2 separate regions of the Homo sapiens genome follow, and region 1 is linked to region 2. The links come from fine-mapping of genetic effects on gene expression. A gene starts in region 2. The other region holds a variant in brackets. All regions are shown on one strand. Distances are from middle to middle.

Region 1 (8,268 bases), 430 kb after region 2:
GAAAAGTTTGAAAATATGTATCTTATGGGGCAAGGACAATCAACAGGAAACTGTTTGGCAAAGAAATCGGAATTTGTTCTGGTAACAAGAAAATAGTATATTGACTTACTATTTTGAATTTTTCTTACAGTCTTAATCTGGTTTTAATATCAGGGTAATTCTGGCTTCATAAAATGATTTGGGAAGTATTCCCTCCTCTTCAGTTTTCTGATGATTTTGGATGTTGTTGGATGGAGAGGTATACAAATATCAATTATGTTAAGTAGGTTGATAGTATTGTTCAGGTATTCTATATCCTTATTTACAGATATTCTGTATACTTGTTCTAGAAAATAGGTTCTGTTTTCATTGTAAGAGACAGGGTTTCACTCTGTCGCCCAGGCTGGAGTGCAGTGCTGCAATCATAGCTCACTATAACCTCCAACTCCTGGGCTCAAGCAGTCCTCCTGCCTCAGCCTCCCAAGTAGCTGGGACTATAGGCATACAACACCATGCCCAGCTAAGTTAAAAATACTTTTTTTTTGTAGAGATGGGGTCTCACTATGTTGCTCAGGCTGGTCTTGAATTCTTTGGTTCAAGTGACCCTCCTGCTTCTGCTTCCTGAAGTCCTGGGATTACAAGCCTGAGCCACCACAGTCAGCTGAAAAGAGGTTTTTAAAAAATAGTCAGAGAGGGCACAGCACACAAGGGAGTTATCCAGGGAAAGGACATCATCTGCCCCAGCAGCTCACATTTGTGGCGAGTGGCTCAGGACTGAAGTACCCTCTGAGTGCCCGTCTATGCGGTTTAGTCCCCTTCCCACAGCAGTTGCTTAAGTTCTGGAACAGCCATCCTGGGTACCCTCTGGGTCTTCTGCCCTGAGGGTCCCGGCTATTTTCGTGTCTGCTCGAGCACTTGACCTGCTCCCCAGCCCTCCTCGCTGACTGTGGGGCCTGCGCCACGCCGCGCTTCTCCCTCTCGGCAGGTGGAGAACTCCACGCTGAGTTCCCAGAGCGCAGCGCTCACCGCGCAGTACACGCTGCTGCAGAACCACCACACGGCCAAGGAGACGGAGAACGAAAGCCTGCAGAGGCAGCAGGAGCAACTTACAGCGGCCTACGAGGCCCTGCTGCAGGACCACGAGCACCTGGGCACGCTGCACGAGCGGCAATCGGCCGAGTACGAGGCCCTCATCCGCCAGCACAGCTGCCTAAAGACACTGCATCGGAATCTGGAGCTGGAGCACAAGGAGCTCGGGGAGAGGTAGGGCCTGGGGAAGGAAGGGGATCTGGGGAGGGGTAGAGTCCAGAGGAGAGGCTGGGCCCAGGGGGAAAGGTGGGGCCTGGGGTAGATGGGTGGGACCTAGGGGAGAGGCAGGGCCTGGGGAAGATGGGTGGAGCCTGGAGGAGATGGGTGGGACCTGGGGGAGAGTGATAGAGCCTGGAGGAGGGGTGGGGCCTGGGGAGAGGGGTGGAGCCTGGAGGAGAGGCAGAGCCTGGGGAGAGAGGTGGAGCCTGGAGAGAGGCGGGGTCTGGGGGAGGTGGGTAGGACCTGTGGGAAAGGCAGGGACTGGGGGAGATGGGTGGAGCCTGGACGAGAGGCGGGGGCCTCGTGAGAAGGGTGGAGCCTGGAGGAGAGGTGGAGCCTGGAGCAGAGGTGGGGTCTCAGGAGAGGGTCTCAGGAGAGGCAGGGCTTTGGGGAAGTGGGCAGGGCCCGGGGGAGAGGCAGGGTGTGTGGGGAGGGGAGGTGAAGGAGGGTGGAGGTGGGGCCCCTGGGTAGGCCTGCAGCGGGGCCTGAGGCCAGGCCTGGGGAGTCTGTCAGGCTGCGCGGAGGACTGGGACTTCCCTGGACCTCCCCTGCAGGAAATCTCTTGGCCAGCTGCTTCCCATTGTTGGGGCACCTGAGCTTTCCCAAAAGGAAGGAAATAAACGTTACCTTTAGCAATTTGGAATTTGTGCAACTGAAGACAGTAGTAAGAGGGGCTCCTGTGTGGAGAAGGGGATGCCTCTACTATTTCCAGTGGGCCTTTGGGGCCCTGATCCCTAAGGGTTCTCTTCTGTCTCTTTTCTCCCCAAAACAGAAATAAGGAGGGAATTCTCCACGGCTCCGTTTGTAGGGGTATGCCTTCTCTGGCCTCCCAGCTCTTCTCTTTCATATCAAGGTCTCGCTTGCTTTTTTTCATTTTTAACCTTTAATTATGGAAACTTCCGAACATATAGAAAGGAAGCAGAATCATATAGTGAAACTCTTGTGTATGCATCATGCACTCTCGACAGTCATTTATGTCCTGCTGTTCTCATTTCATGTGCACCTCCCACTCTCCACACCCTCACCCCATTTTTTACAGGTAAAACTTACATTGAAATGCACACATCTTAACTTTGCACTCTTGACAGTTCATGGTCTTGGGTTTTGTATTCATTAAGTCAGCCAATCTGGGCTGGGATTCTGTCTCCTGCTGATCAGTGATGGTACCAGGCACCTGCGCAGGGCATGGCAGGATCCAGGGAGGGCTAGGAGAGGTAGGATGCTGCTCTCCAGAGTCTGAGGGGCAGGTGTGATGTGCACCTGAATCTGATGCATGAGAGAGACATGGCTAAAGAGAGGCTCTCAGGTACTTGGAGTACAACAGAGGGAGCAAGATCTACTTCCTTTGCCTGGGAAATGGCCCTGCTGATGGTATATCCTTTGGAGCCGCCTCAACAACATGGCTAAGTGATCGTTGGTTCTTCAAGGTGGGAGTGGGGAGGACATCTCCACGGTCAGGAGCCACAAATGTCATTGAATCACAAAAGCCTTGTGCGGGCGCTGATGATGCTTGTGGGTTCATGGGTGGTGATGACATTCATTTATTCACTTGCCAAGTGCTTCCTTTTTGTCTCTATCTGGAGTTCTTCACCCCTTTTATCCATCCAGATCTCCATCCTTCAGGGGCTGTTGAGGCATCTGAAACTATAAGACTACTCCTTCCGGCCTAAAGTAGCATCTTCTGCCTCTTTTCACTTTGATCTCTCCCTCGTCTTCCCCCACCCATCTTGTTATTTGTGTGACATTTATTGTGTACGTGGTGCTGTGTCTAGACATGGTAGGAGTTGCACCCAGCTGACAAACTAATGAAGCATTCGTGTAAGTCTGATACTAGCATGATGCCCAGCACTCACCAGGCACTTGCGTGCCTTATTCTTAGTGTTATGTTATGTCGTATTAAATAATGCTGTATTGTATTCTTTCCTTCTTTCTTTATTTTGAGATGGAGTCTCACTCTGTCGCCCAGGCTGGAGTGCAGTGGAGCGATCTTGGCTCACAGCAGCCTCCACCTCCCGGCTTCAAGCAATCCTCCTACTTCAGCCTCCCAAGTAGCTGGGACTACAGGCATGCACCACCACACCCGGCTAATTTTTGTATTTTTTAGTAGAGATGGGGTTTCACCATGTTGACCAGGCTGGTTTTGAACTCCCTACCTCAAGTGATCCACCTGTCTCGGCCTCCCAAAATGCTGGGATTATAGGCGTGAGCCACCGTGCTGACCCCTTATTGTATTCTTAATGTGCATTCAGAGAGCAAAGGTTTTGGCAGGTGGAGTCTGGACTGTTGTTTTCCCTGCAGGTCCTTGCTCAGTACAGCATGTGGTAGTTACTCAGTGCTTTTTGCTGGTTGGACAGATGACTGGAGGCTCCCTTGCTGTGTCTGCAGCAGGGCTACAGGTTTAGGAGTGTAGGTACATGGCACACAAGGATGATGGTTTTCTCTTCTTCTCATTTGACACTAAAATCGGAGACGCTCACCCACTCATTGCTCTAACAAGCATTCACTACGTGTCATTCCTCACACGGGGATTCAGTGGTGAGTAAGAGTTATAAAGTTTCTGCCCTACAGTTGGGTCATTGCTAATGGTTAGAGACATGCTTGATTAATGTGCTTTTCCAACAAGGTGCAGTGGAGTCCTGAAGAGAAAGGCCAGAAACCC[C/G]AGGGACACTGGCTAGCCTCTGTCAGATTGTCTTTGGGTGTGAGACACTCAGGAAGGGGTCTGTAGAGAAGAATTTGCCTGAATGGGAAAGATCAGGAGACTGTGCCTCAGACTTCTCAACACTTCCAGTCTGCTAGGAGATCCTGGGTCACCCGTGAACACACGAGGTTGAAACAGGCTGGGAAGGGGAGGGGCCGGGACCTATGGGGCTACATCATTGTACTCTGCCCCCCAAGAGATGGCCAGTGCAGCCGACAAAGATAGATTAGAGCCTGGAGAAGATTAGAGCCTTGAGGGTAAGGAGAAAGTTGTGGGGACGGTGAGGGCTGTGGCTAAGGCGCCTGAGGAGAGCTGCTGTGTGTATGTGACAACTAGTCCCTGGCAGCTCCTGGGTGAGCCTCTGTCCCCTGGGGAAGGCCAGACTAAGAACAAGTGGATGCAGGCTCCTAAGGGGAGAGGGAGAGGCTTCTCCAGCCCTTGGAGGGTGAGATTAGCTGTGATGTGCAGCGGAATTCCACTGTTTGTTTTGTGGTTTCTCTTAGATTTATTTGTGCTTAGTGAACTACCTAGTAGCGTATTTATAATTCCCTAAAAGAGAAGGGCATGGAGCTCAGAAAATGTAGTCATCACATTGTCAGGTGGCTAAAGGAAGAGCGACTGCTTTATCAGGGCATGGAGGGACTATGGAGACAGAACGGGCTGGAGGAAGAGGATTCTGGGCTCCAGGGCTTGGCGCTGGCCTTGACATGGCTCCCAGTGGCTGCGCTCCCCGCCTGTTCCCTGCCCCATGCCCCTCACTTCTGCAGAGAGACTCTCCAGAGGAATCCCATTTTCTCACGGGAGGCACGCAGATCCTCTGGGATGTGAGTTACCTGTCGGAAAAGAAGGCCCTGGCCAGACTCACGGCAGGTGCTTCCCTCCAACAGGCACGGTGACATGCTGAAGCGCAAGGCGGAGCTGGAGGAGCGGGAGAAGGTCTTGACCACTGAGCGAGAGGCGCTGCAGCAGGAGCAGAGGACAAACGCCCTCGCCATGGGCGAGAACCAGAGGCTGCGGGGCGAGCTGGACAGGTGAGCGCCGGCGCCCGGCCCTGCACATAGCAGCACCCCAGATTCTGTTCAGACTCTCCTTGCATAGCAACCACTGAGAAGTTCAAGTCCCCTGGCGATCGTGGATTTTTATCCCTTGCTGTGTGAACAGCTGGGTGGGTAAAATAAGCTAAAGGGCAACTCTAGCTGGTTGCTGGCATGAGAGCACTCAGGTGACACCTGGGGATGGCGCGTCGTCTGAGTTAAGTGGTTCTCCCCTCCCACCCTTGTGGTGAGGATTGCATCAGGCACAGGTGAATTCATCATCTGGCATAAGCCTGCCTCTTGCTCATGAAGGAGAAACTGCAGATTGCTCATGATTCACAGAACCCCTATTTGTGAATCCACCTACTTGCTAAAGTTTTATTTGCCGCCCCAAGACCAGTCTCCGTGGGGCTTTCGTGGACACGCACAGAGTGGTGAAATGCGGGAGTCACTGGATGCGCACCTTCCCAGCTGAGGGCACACACGACAGCACGCTGCCTTCTTGTTTCAGCTCCTACTGCAAACAAATGTCCCTTTCAGAATCTCTTCAATGCCACGGTTTTCATATTTTGTGCTTTCGGGAAGTGACTTTGCTGTTTAAAATGACCCACAATTGTAGTACTGAAGTGCTGTTTCATGTCCCTAAGCAGAAGGTGGCTGTGATGTGCCTTACAGAGAAAAAGTCTTAGATAAGCTTTGTTCAGGCATGAGTTATAGTGCTGTTGGCTGTGAATTGCTGCATAAGGTATCTTCAAACAGAAACCCACATAAAACAAGGTTATGTATTGATCAGTAACAAAAATGTGGCCAGAGGCTCCCGGGAACCTAATTCTATATTTTTTCCCTAGGCTGGATGCTTCGCTGTTCACTAATTCAGTGTTTACAGCAACTTTATAGAATGTGACTACCACACATAATGAGAATCGACTATACTATTGTTATCTTTTTGGCTTTCTTTTTAACAGATGAGGAAACAGGTTGGGAGAGATTAAATAACTTGTTCCGAGTCAGTGTTTCTAGTGAATAGCAGAGTCAGGATGGAATCCAGGTCCTGTCTCATTGCAAAGGCTTGACCATACGAAATTCTTCCTCCTCCCACATACTCGAGTTCGTGTATACGGGGGGTTAGAAACTCAGTTACCTTGGCTCCCCAGGCAAATAAAGCACATGGGTGAAACAGTACCAGACATAGACCACAGACTGTTGAACGGAGAATGCACATCGTCTAAAAGGGCAGCAGAGAATCGGCTCCAGCAAAGGCCGCCAGCTGGAGGCGGGCCCGGGACTGCCTGGGCAGCCTTTTGTTTTTTATATTTTAAGAGAACCTGAATGTTTGGGTATTGATGTAAACTTCAAATTTTTTAATGCTGGCCACTAAATTTTTTTTTTTTTTTTGAGATGGGATCTTGCTCAGCCACTGAGGCTGGAGTGACATGATCATGGCTCACTGCAGCCTTAACTCCCTGGGCCTAAGTGATCCTCCCAGCCCAGCCTCCCAAGTAGCTGGGAGCACAGGTGTGCGTCACTATGCCCGGCAACATTTTTTTTTTTGAGACGGAGTCTTGCTCTGTCACCAGGCTGGAGTGCAGTGGCGCGATCTCGGCTCACTGCAAGCTCCGCCTCCCGGGTTCCCGGCAACTTTTTTCTACTTTTTGCAGAGATGGGGGTCTCACTATGTCGCCTAGGCTGGTGTGGAACTGGCCTCAAGCGATCCTCCCTCCTCAGCCTCCCAGAGTGCTGGGATTACAGGCGTGAGCCACCATACCTGGTCAACTAATTTGTTTTTAAAAAGTAAAATTGTACAGGCCAAATAAGACACGTCTATGTCCAAATCAAGTCCACAAGACCCTGGTAATGAGCTTTCTGATATAAATCTCCAGAGAACTCCCAGTTGGATAATAGTTGTTTTGATGATAGCAATTTTAATAGATTTACATAATACACACCATCTCACACTTTATCTCACGAGCTGAAATTAGAAAGGGGCTTGGAATTGGGAAGAAGAGCTGGGCAGAGACAGAATTTTAGAGCAAAAATGGTCTAGTTTAGTGGTTTAAACATTTTTTTAAACAGCAGAATCTTGTTTTTCAAGTGTACACAGATACCAAAGCTGTAGCATGGAAGTGATGGTAGCAGTGATGCTGTGTTGAAACAGGTGTCTGAGCTTGCCTGCTCAGTCTCCCTGGAGGCTCAGTGTAGTGGCATCAGGGGTACCCTCATGCATCCCCAAAGAACACAGTTTGCTGATGGACAGTTTTGTCCAAGCTCCTTATTTTATGCATGGAAAAAAAAAAAAGCCCAGAGAGGTTGTGATTTTGTCTAAGGTTGCACAGCCTGCCACTGTCAGAGCTGGGACATAGCCCAGGTCTCTGGGCCGTTACCTGTTTGTCAGGCTCTTCAGCTCCTTTGCCCTGTGACTCTTCCTCCTCCAGGGTCAATTTCCTGCACCACCAGCTGAAGGGGGAGTACGAGGAGCTGCACGCCCACACCAAGGAGCTGAAAACCTCACTGAACAACGCGCAGCTGGAGCTCAACCGCTGGCAGGCCCGCTTCGACGAGCTGAAGGAGCAGCACCAGACCATGGACATCTCGCTGACCAAGCTGGACAACCACTGTGAGGTGAGGCCAGCGCCAGGGGAGCCTCGGGAGACAGGGATGAGTCCCCCAAGGGGACAGCCCAGGGCTCAGCCAAGCTGTGAGGGGTCCTCATGGGCATTTGTGCTCAAAGACAGAAATGTGTGGAGGTGGCACAGAGGCTGCGGTGAAGCCAGAGGTGCTGACGGGGGTCATTGTGGCTTCTGGTGGGACTGTATACGAAAACACCCCTGTCTGACCGTCACCTTTTGCAGGGTCGGGAGAGGCACAGTGGGGACGGTTGATGATGTTTTATCTCGATCCTCTTAGCTGTGTCTATACTGTCTTCCTACATCTCTTCAGTTCAGTAGTCACACTGTCCTAGAGAAGTGGTGTGAATTTGCTCCATTTTGGGGTGTGGCTGCCTCTGGGACGGAGCTCACTCGGGAGTCCCTGGCTTCCAGAGCCGTCCCTTCTAGTACACAAGGTTGGAAATGGCCTCACGCAGCAAGACCCTCTCCAGATGAGATCTTAACAGACCTCAGCACATGGAAGGCTGGTGAGGCAGGTCTGGCAGGGAGGAGCACGTAGGTCTCACCCCACCTCCTAGACAGCCCCAGGGACAGCTGGCACCTCAGGACAAGGTTTGCTCTTTGAGAAACAGTCTCAGACGCC
Region 2 (8,333 bases):
GGACTTTTAAAAGAATATGTGGAGAAATTAAGTTTTAGGTGGCCACCATCTATCTTACATAAGCCTGCCTACATAAGCCTGCCTGCCTGCCTTCCTTCCTTCCTTCCTTCCTTCCTTTCTTTTTCTTTCTTTCTTTCTTTTTGAGACAGATCTTGTTCTGTTGCCTAAACTGGAGTACAGTGACATGATCTTGGCTCACTGCAACCTCCGCCTACTGGGTTCAAGTGATTCTCCTGCCCTTAGCCTACTGAGTAGCTGGGACTACAGGCGTGTGCCACCACGTCCAGCTAATTTTTGTATTTTTAGTAGAGAAGAGTTTCACCATGTTGGCCAGGGTGGTCTTGAACTCCTGGCCTCAAGTTACCTGCCTGCCTTGGCCTCCCAAAGTGCTGGGATTACAAGTGTGAGCCACTGTACCTGGCCAGGTTTTCTATATTTATTAAAGAAAAAAAAAAAAAAAGACTGGCCAAATTCCCAAAACTATGGCTTCTGAATACGATTTTCCAGTAAAAGGAATCAGAATTATATAGAGAAATGACTGAGTCCATGTCTGGGGCAGGAAATGTAGAAGGTGAGCCTAGAGTATCTTGTCTTATAAGGAAGGAAGGAAACTGTCAAAAATGACTAGAGTCATGTCAAAAAGACAGAAGCGAACTTTGGAGGGACCATACCTGTTAAAATTAGACACCTTGAGCATCAATAAGGATAATAACCATAATGATAGAAATACATTAAATATATTTAAATGGAAACCTGTGAGTTCATAATGATAGCAAAAATGAACTTTATTGGTTGCCTCTATAAGGATGCTAGGGAATCAATTCATTATTTTCAAAATGGTAAACGAAGGAAAAGAATGAAGCATTTGTCTTCTCTTAGGAATTGTACCTCTGAGTAAACAAATAGTTGATGCATGAAAAGTTATCTTTATAAAAGTATTCCAGCTAATAAGCAAAGAAGAAATGATAATACATCACCACTCTGCAGCCTCTAATGAATTTAACAGATTTAGGCAATAAATGATAGATGCTACATCAGAAAAAGAGCTAACCACACCTTAGGTGCCTCCTGATGGAAGTACCCAACACCACCTATGAAGTGTTCTTGACAAAAAAATTAAACCTGCATCTGATCAAGCCTCTAAATCTACTTAACAATTTACCGAACAATATGATAAACTTATGATGTAAAAAGATACCATAATGATGCACTCAGCAAAATCCAAACCATGGGAAACACATTACAACTAACTTCTTCTTTAATGAATTTCAAGGAAAAAGCGAGAGAAAAAAAAATGATGGGGTGAAGGGAGAGGTGAAAGGAAAATTACTTGTAGATTTTGACACCTCAGAGATACATCAACCAGTGGCAAAGTTTGAACCTTATTGAATCCTGATTCATACAACTATAAAAAATTTTGTGAATGAGGTAACTGAGGAAATATAAACAGTCACTGGGTAGATATCTGGGACTTACTATTATTTTTAGGTTTTAAATTGTATTGTGGTTTTCTTTTCTTTAAAAAAAGTCATTTTCTCTTAGAAATACATACTGAAATATATACAGTTGTCTAGGATATCTTCAAAGTAATCCTGCAGGCTGGATGCGGTGGCTCATGCCTATAATCCCAGCACTTTGATAGGCCAAGGCAGATGGATCACTTGAGGCCAGGAGTTTGAGACCAGCCTGACCAACATGGAGAAACTCCATCTTTACTAAAAATTAGCTGGGCGTGGTGGCGCACACCTGTAATCCCAGTTACTTGGGAGGCTGAGGCAAGAGAATCTCTTGAATTCCGGAGGTGGATGGTTTCAGTGAGCCGGGATCAGACCACTGCATTCCAGCCTGGGTGACAGAGCGAGACTGTGCCTCAGAAAAAACAACAAACACCACCAAAAAACAACAAAATAATACTAGAGGAGGAAGTGAGTGAAAGAGAGTATAGATGAAACAAGACCGAAGGTAGGCAATTACACAAAATAGAATATATATGTTATAATATATATATTATTTACATATATATAATGTATAGTTCTCTCTACTTTTCCCCCAATGTTTGGCACATCCCATAATAAAAAGTTATTAAAAACTGAGGGTGATTTTAATCTTGGATGACTGAAACATCCTCGTTATCTTAGTCTTTGAACTTTTTGAGTCTTTAAAATTTCTCACATAAAAAGGATAAGAAGGCTGGGCACGGTGGCTCATGCCTATAATCTCAGCATTTTGGGAGGCCGAGGCAGGCAGATCACCTGAGGTCAGGAGTTCAAGACCAGCCTGGCCAACATGGTGAAACCCTGTCTCTACTGAAAATACAAAAATTATCTGGGCGTGGTGGCGCACGCCTGTAATCCCAGCTACTCAGAAGGCTGAGGCATGAGAATCACTTGCACCCGGGAGGCGGAGGTTGCAGTGAGCCAAGATTGCACCACTGCACTCCAGCCTGGATGACAGAGATGAGACTCCATCTCAAATAAATAAATTAATAAATAAAACAAAGACAAGAAAAATTTATAAATAAAATTGTTACATGACAAATTGAGTTAAATATTTACATTAAATATTGCAAGGGGTTATTTTACCATTTCACAAGCAAAACACTAAATTTCCCGTAGAAAATGTTTAACAACATGCCCAGATAATTTATAGAAGAAAAAAATGTCAAACAAGCATATTTATAAGTGTTCAGTTGAACCAATATTGAAAAAAGTAAAACAAGATTTTTTAATGTATCAAATTATTTCAGATTATATCTAATTTTCACTGCTGGGTTTCTGGAAAGCAATTTGTCAACATACATTCAAGAGTCTTAAACATGTTCATATCCTAAGGAAATATTTTTAAATGTAGGAAAATAATTTTGTTCAGGATTATTCATTACCACATTTCTCAAAAAGGAAAACACTGGAAATAGAAAAATATTTTATGTTTAAGTAAATTAGGTACCGTTATTTTTAGATCTACAACTGCGAAGACTTAAATAAAACACTTGAGTTACACGAGAAAATGGTCAGACTAACAATGACTGAAAGAAGGACATATAAATGCAGAAGAAACAGACTCGAGAAATGTCAAAATGTCCACAGTGGTTATATCTGGTTGTTGATTTATGCGTAATTGATTTCTCTATACTTGTTTTCATTTTTCACACATAATAAGCCCTGTTATAGCCAGCAAAAAATTACAAAAAAAGTCAAAGTCATCCTTCTTTCAATCAGCCCATTGCCTTGCCCCCTATCCTCCTGACTAGACGGAAGCCCAGTGCATAATTTGTTTTTCAGGCAGAAGAACCCCTTTCATTCCACTGTTACAGATGAATCACCTACTGTGGGAGTAGTCTTGGTACTCACATCAAAGTGTAATTCATCAGTGACTGTGATTGAAAACAGATCCTTTACTCTTTCGTAAGTTAGGAAACAAAATGTGGGGGCAAATGAGGAAAAGAAAACTAAGAGGTTGCTGGGGAGAAAGAAGGCAAATGTCACCTGCTTCATCATTCTTTTTAGAGCTCTCAATGTGTACCTTCAGTATTGCTCAGACTTTTTTTTAATGTGTAGCAGTGTTGCTATGGTAACTGAAAGCTACATCTTCTTCCATAAAAGCTTTATTGCCTTCCCTAGTGGGAAACAGGCAACAAAAAAAGAGAGCTCCAAGTTTCTGGGAACTGAGTCTTTATAAGGAAATATATTTTGTTGTGTTTTGCACACTGTTTCAGGTTCTTCTTTAGGTCAAGGTCACCAGAAAGGGTGAGAGAAATATATTTCTGATGCGGGCTCTTCCAGGAATAGATTAAACCCAGATACCAGACATATTTCAGGATATGAGGGTAAAGCAGGTTTTACATGGCCATGTGAAGGGACTTCTGAAGGACAACCTGAGTATAAAACACGTTTTATTATCATGATTATCAAAAAGTATGTGTCAGCCTCTGTGACCATTCATGACTAGTCAGGGCGCTGGGTAAGACAGAAAGGTTCAAGCTCAGCTCACTCGGTACTCAGTCAAAGGCAGCCTTAGTGAGCACATACAACCACATCAAGGACAGTCACACAACATGAATACGGAGGACAAACTGGCATGCCATTTGGTCTCACTGTTTCCATGCGTCCACAGCTCATTTCTAACTTTGTGCTTTGTGTATTTGCTTGTCTTGTTTACCTGTCAATAAGGCCTTCTCTATTTTTTTTAAGTCCCAGTCTTCCTTAAAGACCCAGTTATGAAGCTCCTCCCCTTTGAGAGATTGCCTCCTTTTAAACCTTATTATATGCAGTTAGCATGAGCTTTTAGCATTTATGTTTTTCCCCAGGCATTCAATGATCGTATGATCATTGAAGTGTTTTATAGATAATCATATGTAGGTTTCTGATCCTTCCTAGATAAATGCTATATTAAAGATGGAAGGTTTGGAGAACCTCCACCTCTCATCGGTTTTTAAAGAAAATGGCCTGTGGTGCTCTGAAAGAGGCAGTTAGTTGGAAATTCCAACTGCCTGTCCTTTAGATTTTCTAAGCATGCTTCTGTACTTGGTAGCTGCTGATTGGCTGTTACCAAAGGTGACTAGAGTGCTAAGCCAGTCAACAGGGAAAACTTGGCTCCTGACTTTGGGTCTTTCTTCTCAGTCTATATGGAAGAAAACTGAGAAAAAATATAAAAAAGAAGAACACAACTAGTTGCGCATCTCCTAAAGAGGTAATTACAGTAAAAAATATTAAAATAAGGACCCTGCTGGAGTATGAATTTATAATGTGATCACTATTCCATAATAATGGAGTAACTATAAATGAACCAACTGGGGGAGGAAATAGCTTCCTTCAATGGGGCAATTCCCAATGTTTATTTAGTGCCAGAGAAGAGAAAATGCCCAGATACATGACTTGTATCCAGTAATTATGTAAAACTTATAATAATTACAAAGGAATGATAACTGGGGGTAATTTAACTGCTAAGTAGGTCAGTAGGGGAGTGTGATGAGGAAAAAGAAGTTGCTGCAGTGTATGGAGATATGGAATTCAGAAGTAATACTTGTCAAGTGCTTATTCTGTATAGAATATGTTAGATGTTTTAAGGTATTTTTCATTTAATTCTCACAACAACACTGTGAAGTGCCTGTTATCCCCATTTTACTGAATAGAATATGAACTCCAAGAAGTTAAATAGCTTGCTAAAAATCAAATATTTCGATGGACAGACTTCGTCTTAGGCTAAAGTCTATGTTTTTACTCTAACTATGAGCTGAAAGTTGAAAGAAGATAGTATCAAATAAGGAAAAGTTGTAATATTGAAGGGAAAATAAGAAGAATGAGACTGGAACTATGCCCCAAAGAATTAAAGAAACCAGTAGGTAGCAGAAATTCTTGAGCTTGCAGGATGGCAGATAAGAAAGCTTGCAGAACAAGCTTGCTGACATTAAAACCAGAATTTCCACCACGTGCTTCATACTAACTCTCTCGAGTTTGCACAGGTGACCCATGAAGAGGCATAAAGATTCTAATAATGGTGTTGTATCATTTAATTTGAATGTTTAGCAAAGTGATATAAGATTTTTCTGGTAAAGGGACTATTTTCAGAGTTTAACTGTGATAATGTCTCCACTTAATGTTAAATTCGTTCTTACACCAAAAATATACTTGAGCATTGCACCATGCCGACAGAATTTTAATCTACCATTTGTTTCCTCTTACCTTGTGAAAACAAGTTGTTTTCTCAGATGATTTTTAAAAATGCACTAAAAACCTTCAGTTCTCCCCTGTTAATGTGATAAGAATGAATTCAAAAAAATCAAACTGTTTGAGCTTTCTATTGTCAATTAAATGTATTTAATAAGCAAGTCAGTTTTGATGAAGGAAAAACACCAGTTACATTTAATTTACTCAGCAGTTGTCAGGAACTGCACAAAGTTCTGAGATTTTATTCCACTTAGAGTTGGCAAATTAGTATGTTTCTGTTTTCTTGGATGCTGGCAAAAGACACAAGACTCCTAGGTCAGAGACGAAGGACTTTATTACTAATAGCAAAAGCAGTAGCCAGAGTGTCCACAGGTTGCTCACTCCAGTACCTCCTGTCCCCCAAGTTCCTTAGAGGTGAAATTCATCATGGATGCTGTGTTAGTTTTCTAGGGCTGCCATAACAAAGGCCCATACACTGGGTGGCTTAAACAACAGAAATTTATTTTCTCACAGTTCTGGAGGCTAGAAATCTGAGATCAAGGTGTCTGTAGGGTTAATTCCTTCTGAGGGCCATGAGGAAGGAACTGTTCATGCGTCTCTCCTGAGTTTATAGGTGGCTGGCTGTCTTCTTCCTGTGTCTTCCCTTCATCTTCCCTCTGAATGTCTTCCCTCTGTGTCTTCACTTCACCCTGCCTATGTCCAAATTTCCTCTTCTCTGAGGACACCAGTCCTATTGGATGAGGGCCCACCCTAATGACTTCATTTTCACTTCATCACCTGTTTAAAAATCCTATCTCCAAACATGATTGCCTTCTGAGGTAAGGGTGGTTAGGATTTCAACTTCAGAATTTTGAGGGTAGAAAATTGAGCCCATAATGGATGCTTATACACGTAGTGGAGTGCATTACAGGAGAGGTACAGTGAGATTAAGCAATTCACCATGGAAACAAGCCTGCTGTTGTCCAGGGTGCCTTACCTCATCCCTCAAGGCTGGTGGCTACAAAACACAAGCCTGAGATGAACACCATCCAGGGCCTTGCATTCTTGGCACACTCAACGAGAATGTGCAGGGAAACTCAGGACCATGTGAATTGTCTTCCCCAAAAGCAACGTTGTCAAAATATTAGATTAAGTTACAGCTGTATCATCCTCAGAGTCTTCATCAGTTCAGGCTCTGTTTTACATAGCTGTGTAACTGATCTCACCTCTCTAAAGGTTACCTACTGAAGGAAAACCTGAGCCACATCTCTTTTTCTAGTTTGTAATAATTATACCTATAAATTTACCTTTAATACCAAGTAGGGAGTAAATTTAGAGTTTAGGCAACTGTTGTGTTGTCTGCTTTTGTCACACAGTGTGAAATATTAAGAATATTGAGATTATTTCTTTACTACTTTGTAGTTGTTTATAGCAAAAGGAATTCAAAAATATGTTCAGAAATTGAGTGAAAATAATTCTTATTTATTCCAACAGATGGAATCGCCACTTATATATGTTTCAGTTTTGCTTTTGAACATATTTGAATTTTCATCAGGAATAGTATATAATAAAGGTAAGTTTCAGACCATCTTACTCTCTATTTCCTTCTCAGGAGTTCTTATTTGTGTCTCTTCCTTATTTACAGTAAAAAATTTTTCTTTTAGTATTTCTTCTTTATCTTATCTTCCAATTGTTTCCCAATATTGTCAATTATACTCTGGTCTAGAGGCTTCTAATATCCCGAGTACCTGGGATTACAGGTGCCCACCACCACGCCTGGCTAATTTTTGTATTTTTAGTAGAGATGGGGTTTCACCCATCTTGGCCAGGCTGGTCTTGAACTCCTGACCTCGTGATTCACCTGCCTCAGCCTCCCAAAGTGCTGAGATTACAGGCATGAGCCACCACACCTGGCCGATGGCATGAGATTTTATCACACTGCTCAGAACAGTGCACAATGTAAAACTTACAAATTGCTTATTTCTGAAAGTTTCCACTTTATGTTTTTAGACTATGGTTGGCTACAGGTAACTGAAACTGTGGAAAGTGAGATCACAGAAAAAGGGGGACTGTTGTGGTTGTATAACTGTGAATAGGGCAATGAATGAATTTCATAAATGGCATTTTTTTCTGTACGTTTGTCCCACAGTGGATTTTTATGGTAGTCAGAGCAGGCATTCCATTGGTGGTTACACTTGTGTGGTTTCCCTTTATATCATGATTCTTGTTGAAGAAGTCACATGCTGTTGAAAGTATAACTTCTCTGGCACATCTTTCCTTTAGAAGCTTGCGAAAGAGTAATTTTCTGTGTTTTATTATTATAACAGAATCTAGCAAACTCTATAATCTGAGAATTTCTAGGCAAAGCAGTCCGTGGAGGGAAAGTTAGAAAAGTTTGAAATTGTTTCTCTGTCTCTCCTCACAGTATCTCTGCCTCTGTTTTTACCACCCAAGCCCAGAAGATCCTGTTGATATGAGTACATAATTCACAAAATGATACCAAAGTGCAGAGGACAAATCAATTAGTTGCAATGAGACAAGTGTTAGAAAAAACTCTTTGGCCAGGTGCAGTGGCTCACACCTGTAATCCCAGCACTTTGGGAGGCTGAGACAGGAGGATACCTTGAGCCCAGGAGTTGGAGACCAGCCTGGGCAACATGGCAAAACCTCTTCTCTATAAAAAATACA

The links. PIP is the estimated chance that this variant, and not a neighbour inherited with it, causes the effect.
Region 1: its variant is fine-mapped to the expression of CATSPERB in visceral fat (GTEx, PIP 0.98).

What each region holds. Positions count from the first base shown.
Region 1 is chr14:91,296,675-91,304,942 of GRCh38, reverse strand. CCDC88C (coiled-coil domain containing 88C) reads left to right here. Exons shown (of 30, transcript NM_001080414.4): 20 at 965-1,242; 21 at 4,873-5,016; 22 at 7,452-7,638. Among named protein-coding and RNA genes, the nearest start is that of GPR68, 56 kb to the right of the region's middle. RefSeq lists silencers at 1,361-1,520, 1,681-1,740. The variant C/G (reference allele first, on the strand shown) is at 3,947.
Region 2 is chr14:91,728,286-91,736,618 of GRCh38, reverse strand. It overlaps CATSPERB (catsper channel auxiliary subunit beta), which reads left to right and starts at 4,533. Exons shown (of 27, transcript NM_024764.4): 1 at 4,533-4,689; 2 at 7,140-7,218. The coding sequence starts at 7,140.